Linked DNA regions of Homo sapiens. The protein of the gene in region 4 interacts with the protein of the main gene of each other region in a biochemical or structural test. Each region holds a gene or a part of one and is shown on either strand. Other genes may lie near its edges.

What was found.
Region 1: the proteins of MAPT (region 4) and LCK form a complex in vitro, tested with the Homo sapiens proteins (2 studies listed by BioGRID, with this or other methods).
Region 2: of the proteins of MAPT (region 4) and PPP2CB, one has a biochemical effect on the other in vitro, tested with the Homo sapiens proteins (2 studies listed by BioGRID).
Region 3: of the proteins of MAPT (region 4) and MAPK13, one has a biochemical effect on the other in vitro, tested with the Homo sapiens proteins (2 studies listed by BioGRID).

Annotation. Positions count from the first base shown.
Region 1 is NC_000001.11:32,275,265-32,279,013, forward strand, and holds part of LCK (tyrosine-protein kinase Lck), read left to right. Parts: intron 1-56; coding exon 57-155; intron 156-304; coding exon 305-408; intron 409-649; coding exon 650-799; intron 800-1,072; coding exon 1,073-1,225; intron 1,226-1,342; coding exon 1,343-1,522; intron 1,523-3,749. UniProt on the Homo sapiens protein: Non-receptor tyrosine-protein kinase that plays an essential role in the selection and maturation of developing T-cells in the thymus and in the function of mature T-cells. Plays a key role in T-cell antigen receptor (TCR)-linked signal transduction pathways.
Region 2 is NC_000008.11:30,784,867-30,788,818, reverse strand, and holds the end of PPP2CB (serine/threonine-protein phosphatase 2A catalytic subunit beta isoform), read left to right. Parts: intron 1-2,511; coding exon 2,512-2,584; 3' UTR 2,585-3,203; downstream 3,204-3,952.
Region 3 is NC_000006.12:36,142,767-36,145,270, reverse strand, and holds the end of MAPK13 (mitogen-activated protein kinase 13), read right to left. Parts: 3' UTR 750-2,504; downstream 1-749. UniProt on the Homo sapiens protein: Serine/threonine kinase which acts as an essential component of the MAP kinase signal transduction pathway.
Region 4 is NC_000017.11:45,981,339-45,985,338, forward strand, and holds part of MAPT (microtubule-associated protein tau), read left to right. Parts: intron 1-1,527; coding exon 1,528-2,592; intron 2,593-4,000. UniProt on the Homo sapiens protein: Promotes microtubule assembly and stability, and might be involved in the establishment and maintenance of neuronal polarity.

The DNA.
Region 1 (3,749 bases), on a different chromosome or scaffold from region 4:
GGAGGGTCTCAGGTCGACGGCTGAGCGAGCCACACTGACCCACCTCCGTGGCGCAGGAGCGGCGAGTGGTGGAAGGCGCAGTCCCTGACCACGGGCCAGGAAGGCTTCATCCCCTTCAATTTTGTGGCCAAAGCGAACAGCCTGGAGCCCGAACCGTAAGTGGGGACCCGTCGTGGGGGTGGGTAGGAGCAGATCTAGGGATCCTGGAGCAGGGAGTAGGCCTGGGGTGGCGGTGAAGGCTTGAGGGCCACGGAGGAAGATCCGACGACAGCCGACGGCCTTCGTTCGCTTCCGCCCTGCACAGCTGGTTCTTCAAGAACCTGAGCCGCAAGGACGCGGAGCGGCAGCTCCTGGCGCCCGGGAACACTCACGGCTCCTTCCTCATCCGGGAGAGCGAGAGCACCGCGGGTGAGCGGGCGGCGGTCTCGACCGGGCGCGGGGGTGCCCCGGGGTGTGCCCGAGGGGGGGCGCAGGGTGAGCCCGAGGTGGAGACACGGGGTGAGTCGGAGGGGGACGCGGGATGAGCCCGAGGTGGGGGCGCGGGATGACCCGGAGTTGGGGGTGCTGGGTGAGCCCAAGGTGGGGGCGCGGTGGCGGGCCAGACTCACTGCGTTCTTTCGTCGCTTTGTCCATCCATTCATTCATTCAGGATCGTTTTCACTGTCGGTCCGGGACTTCGACCAGAACCAGGGAGAGGTGGTGAAACATTACAAGATCCGTAATCTGGACAACGGTGGCTTCTACATCTCCCCTCGAATCACTTTTCCCGGCCTGCATGAACTGGTCCGCCATTACACCAGTGAGCCCGACGGGACCCCTCCCCCGTGCCCTATCAGCCTATCTCCCCTCAGTCCCCCTCAGGTGTCCCCCATCCATCTTTCAATGCCCTACTCCATTCCCCGCAGTGGGTGAGGTGTGGAACCTGACCCTACGGCCCCAAGTGTTTGGGTGACAGCCCCACACCCCCTTGCTAGTCCACTTCACCTAGATGGGGGCTTGGAGAAGTGGGGGAGGTGGTGTCAATACGAGGCCTGCCCTATTGACAGCCTTCACCCCTCCCTCGTCCTCGCAGATGCTTCAGATGGGCTGTGCACACGGTTGAGCCGCCCCTGCCAGACCCAGAAGCCCCAGAAGCCGTGGTGGGAGGACGAGTGGGAGGTTCCCAGGGAGACGCTGAAGCTGGTGGAGCGGCTGGGGGCTGGACAGTTCGGGGAGGTGTGGATGGGTGAGTGTGGCCTCCAGGACTGCCTGGGAAGAGGGGAACGGGAGGGGCCGCTGAGGTGATGAGAGTCCCAGGACAGCTGCCTGGCGACTTTCCCACTCCTTCCCTTCCCCGACCCAGGGTACTACAACGGGCACACGAAGGTGGCGGTGAAGAGCCTGAAGCAGGGCAGCATGTCCCCGGACGCCTTCCTGGCCGAGGCCAACCTCATGAAGCAGCTGCAACACCAGCGGCTGGTTCGGCTCTACGCTGTGGTCACCCAGGAGCCCATCTACATCATCACTGAATACATGGAGAATGGTGGGTGCTACCCGAGTCGGCTACCAGGGGATACTGCTCTCCCTGCTGTCCCTGCCAGAGGGTGGAAATACACCTTTTCTTCTGGCCCAAAGCTCAAGCAAGGAGGGTTTCTTGAGCTTTCCTGCCCCCTGGAGACTCACCTCCAGCCGGGCGCGGTGGCTCAGGCCTGTAATCCCAGCACTTTGGGAGCCGAGGCGGGCAGATCACGAGGTCAGGAGTTCGAGACCAGCCTGACCAATATGGTGAAACTCTGTCTCTACTAAAAATACAAAAAGTAGCCAGGTGTGGTGGCACATGCCTGTAATCCCAGCTACTCAGAAGACTGAGGCAGGAGAATCCCTTTAATCCGGGAGGTGGAGGCTACAGTTGCAGTGAGCTGAGATCATGCCACTGAACTCCAGCCTGGGTGACAGAGCAAGACTCTATCAAAAAAAAAAAAAAAAAAAAGACTCACCTCCAGGCATGAGAAAAAGGTGTATCCTCTGATCTGATCCTGTCTGGGGGCAAGCCTAAGGTGGCAAGAATGTTCTGGAAGAGCATTCACCCCAACCTTCCCTGACCTGCCATTCTGTTTGCCTTCTTCAAAGCCCTACCTTGATCTCAGGATGCTTGATCTCAGAAAGCAAGTGGGTCCCTAGCCCTGTTTCTCTCCCTTCTGCCCCTGAGCCCTAGGAGGGCAGATCTGCCCCCAAAGCCCTCTTTTTCAGTTCTGAGTGAGACCCCCACCCCTGCACCCCTCTTGGTCTGTTACTGGACAGAGTGAGAGCCCCAGGAAGAGGAATATGAGTTTCTAGCTTCAGCTTTGTTCACACCGATTTGCCGTGTGACAGGCCAAGTGCCTGCACTGTCTCTGGTGCTCAGTTTCCCCAAGTATAACAGCAGAAATCTAAATGGGCTCACCAGAAATAATACAGAGTATTCATCAAGGCCTCTAGAGTCTGACTGCCTGGGTCAGAAGCCTGGCTTCATGATTTTATGGCTTTGTGATAATTATATCACCTCTTTCTGCCATGGTTTCCTACTATAATAACGCGTTAGTAACTTCCTCACAGGGTCTTGTGAGGATGAAATAATTAATGCATACAGAGCAGTTAGAACTATGCCTACTTCCAGGTGCTGTGGCTCAAGCCTATAACTCCAGCACTTTGGGAGGCCAAGGTGGGTGGATCACTTGAGCCCAGAAGTTCAAGACCAGTCTGTGCAACATAGCGAGACTTCATTCCTACAAAAAAATGTTTAAAAATTAGCTGGGCATAGTGGTGTATGCCTGTAGTCCCAGCTACTTGGGAGGCTGAGGTGGGAGGATCACTTGAGCCCAGGAGGTTGAGGCTGCACTGAGCTGTGATTGCACCACTGCACTCCAACCTGGGTAACAGAGCGAGACCTTGTCTCAAAACAAAAAACCCACAAAACTATGGCTACCATATAGTAACTGATCAATAAGTTTGTTGCTGTTATCTGGCTCTGATTCTTTGGGAGTGTAAGATCTATCCTTTTTTCAGGAAGAGAAACAAGCTGTTCATTGGCTAATGGGAAATGGCAAATAGATTATGTCATGTGTATCTTTTTTTTTTTTGAGTCTCACTCTGTCCTCCAGGCTGGAGTGCAGTGGCATGATCTCGGCTCACTTCAGCCTCCCCCTCCTGGGTTCAAATGATTCTCATGCCTCAGTCTCCCAAGTAGCTGGGACTACAAGCATGTGCCACCATGCCTGGCTAATTTTTGTATTTTTAGTAGAGACAGGTTTTCGCCTTGTTGGCTAGGCTGGTCTCGATCTCCTGTCCTCAGGTGATCCTCCCGCCTTGGCCTCCCAAAGTGCTGGGATTACAGATGTGAGCCACCATGCCCAGCCTATCATGTGTATCGACTTTGATTGGTAGTTGCTTGTAGTGCTGGAGAAGGATTCTGAGGTTCATTGGAAGTGAGTGCCAGGAATGATTAGTAACATCTGCCATGGATACAATGGAAGAATGGCAGTATATCTATGTCTATGTATTTGCTGTGTGTAGGTGAGGTCTTTGTCTTTGGTAACTAGTTCAGCACTCAAAGTGGGGACACTCAGGTTGCTGTCATCCTTTTACAGGGTTTTAATCTCTTGGGAAGGGCCATTGGTCACTCACTGCATCCTAGCAACTCCCATCCATGTCCAGCTGCCCTCCACTATTAGAGAGGTGGTCCCTCAGACCCCCAGACCCCCTCTTTCTTATTCCATCCAATATATTCAGCA
Region 2 (3,952 bases), on a different chromosome or scaffold from region 4:
AAAACTAAGCAACAGAAACTGTTTCTCTTGGATAGAACAACTAGGCAGGAGATGAAGGCAGGAGAAGACTTGAGCAACACTGTAAACTGACTGTATACCTCATGTCTGTAAAACAACACCCAACAACAGCAGAATACTTTCCTCTCAAGTAAACATGAAACATAGTCATATGCTAGACTGTAAAACATGCCTCAGGCAATTTAAGAAGATTAGATTCTTAAAAGGATATTCTCCAAACACAAGGAAATGAAATTAGAAATCATTAACATGGCTGGATGCTGTGGCTCACACAAGTAATCCCAACACTTTGGGAAGCCAAAGTAGGAGGATCACTTGAGGCCAGCCTGGGCAACATAGGGAGACCCCGTCTCTACAAAAAAATTTAAAAATTAGCCAGGTATGGTGCCAAGCACCTGTAGTCTCAGCTGTATGGGAGGCTGAGATGGAGGATCACTTGAGCCCAGTTGATCAAGGCTGCAATGAGCTATGATCACAGCACTACACTACAGCCTAGGCAACAGAGCAAAGACCCTGTCTCAGAAAGAAAAAAACAAAAAAAAAAACAAGAAGATTTGAAATCAGTAACCTATCTTTATACTTGAGGACCTAGAAAAAGCAGAGTAAACTAAACCTGATGTAAGCTTATGAAACGAGGTTTAGAGTAGAAATAAACAAACAGTAGAAAATCATTACAGAAAAATCAACAAAACCCAAAGTTGATGCTTTGAAAAGCCTTAACTAGACTGGCCAAGAAAAAAAGGAGTAAAGACTCACATTACCAAATCACTAGAGACCTTACTGAAATAAAAAGGATTATAAGGGAATACAATAAATAACTATATGCCAGCAAATTCAGTAACTTTGATAAAACGTACTAATTCCTAAAAAGAAACTACTGAAACTGACTCAAGAAATATGAAATCTGAATGACCTTTCAAATGTGAAAATATTGAGCCAGCATGGTGGCTCACACCTATAAATCCCAGCTTTGGGAGGCCAAGCTGAGAGGATTGCTTGAGACTAGGAGTTTGAGACCAGCCTGGACAACATAGCAGGACCTTGTCCCTATTTAATTTAAAAGAATATAAATAAATGAGTGAAAAAGTTAAAACTCCCCACAAATAAAAGGCCAAGCCCAATTGGCTTCATTGATGAAGTCCACCAAATGTTTAAAGAAAGGAATTGGCCAGGTGCGGTGGCTCTAACCAGTAATCCTAGCACTTTGGGAAGCCAAGGCAGGCAGATTGAGCCCAGGATTCAAGATCAGCCTGGGTAACATGGTAAAACCCTGTATCTACAAAGAATACAAAAATTAACCTGGTGTGGTGGCTCAGCCTATAGTCTCAGCTACTCAGGAAGCTGAAGTGGGAGGATCACCTGAGCCCAGGGAGGTTGAGGCTACAGTGAGCCATGATCACACCACTGCACTCCAGCTTGGGCAACAGAGTGAGACCCTGTCTCAAAAATAAAAACGAGTTAATGCCAATCCTTCACAAACACTTCCAAAAAACAGAAGAGGAGGACTACTGCATTCATTCTGTCACACCTGCACTATTATCCTTGATACCAAAAGTAGACAAAGGCAAAAACAGACCAGCATTTGTTACGAATACAGATATAAAATTTTCCAACATACGTACCAGCAACCTGGATCTAGCAATATGTAAAAAGATTATACACCATGAGCAAGTGGGATTTATCCCAGGAATGCTAGGTTGGTTCAAAACATGAAAATCAATATAATAAACCATATTAATATTAAGGGATTAAAAAACACATGATCATCTCAATAGAGGCACAAAAATAATTGGAAAAATCCACTAGCCAGAAACACTCAAGAAAATAGTGATATTAGGCCTGGCGCGGTGGCTCACGCCTGTAATCCCAGCACTTTGGGAGGCCGAAGCGGGTGGATCATGAGGTCAGGAGATGAGACCATCCTGGCTAACACGGTGAAACCCCGTCTCTACTAAAAAAAAATAAGAAAATTAGCCGGGCATGGTAATGGGTTCCTGTAGTCCCAGCTACTCAGGAGGCTGAGGCAGGAGAATGGTATGAACCCAGGAGGCGGAGCTTGCAATAAGCCGAGATCGTGCCAGTGCACTCCAGCCTGGGCGACAGAGCAAGACTCTGCCTCAAAAAAAAAAAAAAAAAAAGTGATATTATTATTATTATTAAATAATATTAAACAATTATTGTTTAATTATTTAAACTTGATATTATTTAATCTTTAATTATTTAAGCTTTTAAATAATAATAACATTTAGAAATTGTTATGCCAGGCACCAAACCAGACATTCTGTCTTCTTAAATTTTCACCATAGCCCTATGAAGCAGTTAGTTGGAATGGGAGCATCTGCAGTGATTTGCCCATGGCCATTCCAGCCGTAAGTGATGTAGTCATGGTGGGAAAGCAGGACTGCTGTTTCTACTACAGTGTCTTGTTCTTTATTCATTTGTTTTCTTTGCAAAGTCAGATCCTTTATTTGCTTCCTTTTTTGCCATTTACAGCCTTCAATTTGACCCAGCGCCTCGTCGTGGTGAGCCTCATGTTACACGGCGCACCCCAGACTACTTCCTATAAATTTCTCCTGGGAAACCTGCCTTTGTATGTGGAAGTATACCTGGCTTTTTAAAATATATGTATTTAAAAACAAAAAGCAACAGTAATCTATGTGTTTCTGTAACAAATTGGGATCTGTCTTGGCATTAAACCACATCATGGACCAAATGTGCCATACTAATGATGAGCATTTAGCACAATTTGAGACTGAAATTTAGTACACTATGTTCTAGGTCAGTCTAACAGTTTGCCTGCTGTATTTATAGTAACCATTTTCCTTTGGACTGTTCAAGCAAAAAAGGTAACTAACTGCTTCATCTCCTTTTGCGCTTATTTGGAAATTTTAGTTATAGTGTTTAACTGGCATGGATTAATAGAGTTGGAGTTTTATTTTTAAGAAAAATTCACAAGCTAACTTCCACTAATCCATTATCCTTTATTTTATTGAAATGTATAATTAACTTAACTGAAGAAAAGGTTCTTCTTGGGAGTATGTTGTCATAACATTTAAAGAGATTTCCCTTCATTTAAACTAAATTACTGTTTTATGTTGATCTGCATATTTCTGTATATTTGTCATGACAGTGCTTGCATCCTATTTGGTGTACTCAGCAAATAAACTTTTCATTTTAAACAAAAACATTCATTTATTGTGTTGTGCATTAAATGAAAACTTTATTTTTTCTAGACCAGGTCTTGCTCTGTCATCTGGGCTGGAGTGCAGTGGCACAGTCATAGCTCACTTCAACCTTGAACTCCTGAGCCCAAGCCATTCTCCTCCCTCAGCCTCCTGAGTAGCTGGGACTACACTCAACATACCACCACACCCAGCTAATTTGTAAAATATTTTGTAGAGACGGGATCTTGTTATGTTGCCCAGGCTGGTCTTGAACTCCTGGCCTCAAGTGGCCCTGCCAAATTCTTGAGATTATAGATGTGTGCCATCACACCTGGCCTGCTATCTTGAAACGACATAAAATCTTTCAAAGCAGGGCAATGGGACATGGCTATAGTCCCAGCTACTCAGGAGGCTGAGGTGGAGGATGGCTTGAACCCAAGAGCTTGAGGGCAGCCTGGGCAACATAGCAAGATGTCATCTCTAAAAAATAAAAAATAGGCTGGGCATGGTGGCTCATGCCTGTAATCCCATTGCTTTGGGAGGCTGAGAAAAGAGGATTGCTTGAGCTCAGGAGGTTGAGACCTGCCTGGGCAACACAGTGAGACTCCATCTCTGTATTTTTTTTAAAAAAATTTTTAATCTCTAAACTTGAAATAAACATTTGTGTTGAGGAAATTTTATTGTAATATTCTTTGTTACAGGACTTACTTTCAGAAGAAATTCAAATAGCTGATAACTTTTAGACCATAAAAAAAAGCCAGTCGAAAAAT
Region 3 (2,504 bases), on a different chromosome or scaffold from region 4:
GACCTGAGCCCTCGCCCTACTCTGGGCCTAAGTGTCTTCATCAGTAAAATTGTTTAGAGGGACCACAGTAGGGCAGGGATGGAGGAGTTCCACCCATTCTGCAAACTAGATATAGAGGCCTCCACCAATTCCCTAACACAGGGTTCCCCAACCCCCAGGCAGGGGGCCGATACCTGTCTGTGGCCTGTTAGGAACGAGCTGCATAGCTGGAGGTGAGCCGCAGGTGAGTATTACAGCCTGAGCTCTGCCTCCTGCCAGATCAGTGGCGGCACAAGATTCTCATAGGAGCACGAACCCTATTGTGAACTGCACATGCAAGGGATCCAGGTTGCACGTTCCTTATGAGAATCTAATGCCTGATGATCTGAAGTGGAACAGTTTCACCCAAAACCATTCCCCACCCAAAACCTTTCCATCCATGGAAAAGTTGTCTTCCACAAAACCAGTCCCTGGAGCTAAAAACGTTGGGGAGTGCTGCCCTAGCAAAATGCCCCAGTCAGGTCCATTTCTACCCAGATGGTGAGGTTGGGCGGTCCAGAGGAGCGGGCCCTGATGAGTGTGTGGGCGTCCAGGTGCAGTGCTGGAAGTTTCCAGCCTGGCTCCATGATCATAGAGGGTGGGGCTGGGGGGTTTGTTAGGAATTGACAGAGGATACCTAAAGCCTCATTTCAGTAGCTAGAACAGCCTCATTCCAATAGCTCATAACTGGGGTCCACAAACTATAGAATTCAGGGGTCTGTGCACTTGGATTGGAATAGAATACAACTTTATTTTCAGTCATTTCTATTTCCTTGGTTATGAACAAAGGTAGCAAAGTGCAGTTGTATCAGCAGTGCCAATAGAAATTACAGAGTTTTTCATATCCCTTTACAGTTTGCCACAGGTATCTATCTTAAAATATTGTTTACACTCATCTCTCTTCAGTTTACCATTGTTTAATAGGCCTACCCTCGATCTTTTTATTCAATATGTTAATAAAGAAACCTATACACATAGTATCACGTTATACATTTTAAAAATATTTTGACAACTGTATATAAATATAACTAGCTTACTTTGTAATCCTACATATTTTATGTGTATGAAAATATTATTCTGAAATTAGCCAGGCATGGTGGTGCATGCCTATAGTCCCAGCTACTTGGGAGGCTGAGGTGGGAGGATCACCTGAACCCAGGGAGGTCGAGGCTACAGTGAGCTGTGATTGCACCACTGCACTCCAGCCTGGGTAATGGAGTGAGACCCCATCTCAAAAGAAAAGAAAAGAAAATATGATTTTGAGAAGCGATCCATGGCACAAAAAATGGCCAAGAGCCCCTGACTGAGAGGGGCCCTGTTGACACTCACATGCCACCCGCCCAGAGTGAGGGCAGCTGCCCAGCTGAGCAGGGACCCCGCAGGAGGAACCAGAGCAGGAGAATCCCTGGCACCACCCTTGCTCCAGTACACACCCATGGGTGCTCAATGAAGAAGTGAGGACAACTTGCTGCCATCTTCAGTTTGATGGAATGGCCTTAGGCCTCTGCTGCCGATTGTGAAATCATCGGCCTCTTACCTAAAAGCTCAGGAGGATTTAGGGGGAATGCAGATAGAGCACATGAGTTCACTGTGTAATGAAGGAAGGGGAGCCTCCCAGCATTAGATCTTAGGGAATTGTTCAAATTTAAGGAAGCAAAAGCCAAGAGTTGGGAGGAGAGGCAGGGAGAGATTCCTCCCTCCTCAGCTGTAGCTATAGCATTGCTTGGGGCCATGGAAAAACAGTTTTCCACACCCTAGCAGACAGCAAAAGCTATTTCAATGTGCCAAGTGAAAGTTGAGCCATGCCCTCATCCAAACTAGCCCCCAGCCTCACGCAGGCAGCTCCGGGCACCCGTGCACACTGGGTTCACCCTTACGGAGCTGTTCCTCCATCAGGCAGCTCTGGGCACTGGTGCACACTGGGCTTGCCCTTACGGGGGCTATTCCTCCATTTCTGTCTCCCCTTGTGCTGCCCCTCACTGGGGGCAGCACCACCCCAATCCACGCCAGGCAAGCCCTGCCCTGGGACACCGCTGCTGTCTGTTTTCATGGATGACTCAGGCCCCAGCAAAGATACTCTTTGTTCCTCAAAAGAGGGAATGGAGGGTACACTTGCTCTTAGGAAATGTCCCCCACCTTGCAGTCTGGCTTCCTGATCTCTCTCTGTTAAGATCTTTTAAGCCACCCCATCAGCCACAGAACGAAGCGCATCCACCAAGAATACCTGAGCCCACATCTCCCCCTCCCTCGCCCCGCCAGCTCCTCTGCCCCCCACAGCAGGAGAATGGACTTGTTTCCTATTACACAGGCCATGTGCCCACTGGGCAAGACCCAAACCCGTGGAACCCCCACTCCCTCTACTCCCCACCCCCTCCACCCCCCACCTTGCACTGCTGAGCACCTCCACCGCCTTTTGAAGAAACTTCACAGATTTGAGAAAACTCTGTGGGAGGGGCTGAGGTTTAATTCCGGAGTGGGGATGGCCT
Region 4 (4,000 bases):
AACCAAGGAGTGTAATTCTCCTGTTCTTAATATGCGGCCAGGTTAATGAATGTCACGTGAATGAACCAGAAAAAAATGAAGTGTGCCCTTGATCAGCTGGGTTGGTGTGCAGCAAGCTGTGTGACCAGGGGACAGCAGTGGTCCTGAGGGCCGTCACTGTCTGCCGTGCAGAGCCCTTCCTCCCACGGGGGCCTACCTCACCTGTGCCAAGGGCTTGTCTGTGGTCAGTGACCTGGATAGATCTGAATGGGGCTTCTTTTTCGAGGAGTCTTATGGCAGGTCTCTCAGTAAAGACTCCATTCTTGATGATCACACATTTTGGATTTTCCAAATCTGTCAGAGAATGGGCTTGAGGCGGGGTTTGTGGGCACTAGTTTCACTGGTTTCATTTACCAAAAAGGGGAGCAGAAGTCAAGTATGGTGGCTCATCCCTGTAATCCCAGAGGCAAGAGAATTGCTTGAGCCCAGGAGTTCGAGACCAGCCTGAGCAACATAAGGAGACCCCGTCTCCACAAAAATGAAAAATAACATTTTAGTCAGACGTGGTGGCATGCATCTGTGGTCCCAGCTGCTTGGGAGGGTGAGATGGGAGGGTTGTTTGAGCCCTGGAGTTAAAGTTGCAATGAGCTGTGATTGCACCACTGCACTCTAGCCTGGGTGACAGAACGAGACCCTGTCTCAAAAAAAAAAAAAAAGAAAGAAAGAAAGGAAAAAAAAAACTCATGCCTGTAATCCCAGCACTTTGGGGACCGGGGTGGGCAGATCACGAGGTCAGGAGATCAAGACTATCCTGGCCAACATGGTGAAACCCCGTTTCTACTAAAAATACAAAAATTAGCCAGGTGTGGTGGCACGTGCCTGTAATCCCAGTTACTCGGGAGGCTGAGGCAGGAGAATCGCTTGAACCAGGGAGTCAGAGGTTGCAGTGAGCTGAGATCGTGCCACTGTACTCCAGCCTGGGCGACAGAGTGAGACTCTGTCTCAAACCAAAAAAAAGGGGTGGGGGGCGGGGGCAGGAGAACAGTGAGAGGTAGGGAGAGGAAAGGGGATTCTCGCTACACCCAAACCAGATACCATCTAGAGGCTAGAATCTTTGGGAGGCTCAAATTCCCTAGAAAGCAGGAGAAGCTTCTGTAGCCCTCCCGCTTTCCCAGTAGATTAAGCCCAGGGCGGCTCCAGATGTGTGACATGCTCTGTGCCCAACCAGAGCCCATCATAGGCAGAGGAATAACACCCACACCAGAAGGGCCCTCGGAGGTCACCACGTCCAAGAACCCTCTTTACAGATGAGGAAACTGAGGCCCAGAGAGGGGAGAGCCACCTAGCGAGCTGGTGGCGGCTAGACCAGGAGAGCTGTCATTCCAAGCAAGCAAAGGCAACGAGACGAGCCCAGAGCTGTGCTCCCATCTCTTTGTTAGGGGGCCTGGGATGCCCTCTCAGTGTCATTTTGTCCAGGATGATGCTCCCTCTCTTAAGCGATTAATGCGCCCTTGCTAACCTTTTGCTATCGCTGCCTCTTCAAACCAGAGGAGTTGAGAGTTCCGGGCCGGCAGAGGAAGGCGCCTGAAAGGCCCCTGGCCAATGAGATTAGCGCCCACGTCCAGCCTGGACCCTGCGGAGAGGCCTCTGGGGTCTCTGGGCCGTGCCTCGGGGAGAAAGAGCCAGAAGCTCCCGTCCCGCTGACCGCGAGCCTTCCTCAGCACCGTCCCGTTTGCCCAGCGCCTCCTCCAACAGGAGGCCCTCAGGAGCCCTCCCTGGAGTGGGGACAAAAAGGCGGGGACTGGGCCGAGAAGGGTCCGGCCTTTCCGAAGCCCGCCACCACTGCGTATCTCCACACAGAGCCTGAAAGTGGTAAGGTGGTCCAGGAAGGCTTCCTCCGAGAGCCAGGCCCCCCAGGTCTGAGCCACCAGCTCATGTCCGGCATGCCTGGGGCTCCCCTCCTGCCTGAGGGCCCCAGAGAGGCCACACGCCAACCTTCGGGGACAGGACCTGAGGACACAGAGGGCGGCCGCCACGCCCCTGAGCTGCTCAAGCACCAGCTTCTAGGAGACCTGCACCAGGAGGGGCCGCCGCTGAAGGGGGCAGGGGGCAAAGAGAGGCCGGGGAGCAAGGAGGAGGTGGATGAAGACCGCGACGTCGATGAGTCCTCCCCCCAAGACTCCCCTCCCTCCAAGGCCTCCCCAGCCCAAGATGGGCGGCCTCCCCAGACAGCCGCCAGAGAAGCCACCAGCATCCCAGGCTTCCCAGCGGAGGGTGCCATCCCCCTCCCTGTGGATTTCCTCTCCAAAGTTTCCACAGAGATCCCAGCCTCAGAGCCCGACGGGCCCAGTGTAGGGCGGGCCAAAGGGCAGGATGCCCCCCTGGAGTTCACGTTTCACGTGGAAATCACACCCAACGTGCAGAAGGAGCAGGCGCACTCGGAGGAGCATTTGGGAAGGGCTGCATTTCCAGGGGCCCCTGGAGAGGGGCCAGAGGCCCGGGGCCCCTCTTTGGGAGAGGACACAAAAGAGGCTGACCTTCCAGAGCCCTCTGAAAAGCAGCCTGCTGCTGCTCCGCGGGGGAAGCCCGTCAGCCGGGTCCCTCAACTCAAAGGTCTGTGTCTTGAGCTTCTTCGCTCCTTCCCTGGGGACCTCCCAGGCCTCCCAGGCTGCGGGCACTGCCACTGAGCTTCCAGGCCTCCCGACTCCTGCTGCTTCTGACGTTCCTAGGACGCCACTAAATCGACACCTGGGTGCAGCTGCTCCACTCCCTCGGCCTCCTCCCGTGCTCAGGCTGTGGCCGCACGCGCCCCTCACGCTTGCCCGCCACTCTGCATGTCACCAGCACCCCCGCTCCGTGCTACCCACCTTGTTTGACTCTCTGGCCACTTGATTTGTCCACAACGGCCCATCAGCCCACAGGAGGTTTGGTGGGTGCCTTCCACCGACAGGATGACGGGTGCCCTCATGGTGTCTAGAACTCTCCAACCCTCCCATGTAGGCATAAGCAGCCCCACTTTGCAGATGAGGAAACGGAGGCTCAGAGAAGTACAGTAACTTGCCGAAGGCCAATGAGTAGTAAGTGACAGAGCCAGGTTTGGGATCCAGGTAGGTTGTCTCTGAAAGACACGCCTGTCCTGCATCCCACAACGCCTCCCAGGAGGTGCTGGAGTGTGGACGCCTAACACAGAGATGTGCAGGGCACACACAGCAGGTGACACACACAGCATCCAGAGGTGGCCCAGAGCTCATGCTGTGCCTTTGGCCCAGTGCCCTGCCCCCACCCACTCTGCCTTGTGGCAGGAAGACAAGGAGCAGACACAAGATCTCCCTGGTCCACATGCCACCACCTCCCTCTGCAGAGGACAAGGGGATCCTCATGCTGGCATTGGAGGGGGTTGAGCAGGGCCCACCTTGAGCCCTCAGGAGCACGACCACAGCAGCCCTGCAGGGAGGGATTGGTGGGAGGAGAGTCCCAAGTATCAGGGAGAGGAGAGTTGGTGTCCCACAGGAGACCTCAGAGCCACAAGGCGAGCTTGTTCATAAATTTGGGACCCTTAGCATTTCACAGTTATTTGCAGAGCCCAGAAATGGATGTTACTGAAGCTCACAGTTGCAAGCATCTGTTAAATTTTTATTAGATTTTACTTTTAGGGAAAACTTTGAAATGCTATAAAGAAGCCTGTGTTTAAAAGTTAAGACAGAGGCTGGGGGCGATGGCTCACGCCTGTAATCTCAGCACTTTGGGAGGCCAAGGCAGGTGGATCATTTGAGGTTAGGAGTTCGAGACCAGCCTGGCCAACATGGTGAGACCCTGTCTCTACTAAAATTACAAAAAATTAGCTGGGCGTGGTGGCGGGCACCTGTAGTCCCAGCTACTGGGGAGGCTGAAGCAGGATAAGTGCTTGAACCCAGGAGGCAGAGGTTACAGTGAGCCAAGATCACACCACTGTACCCTAAGCCTGGGCGACAGAGTGAGACTCTGTCTCAAAAAATAAAATAAAATAAAGTTAAGAGAGAAA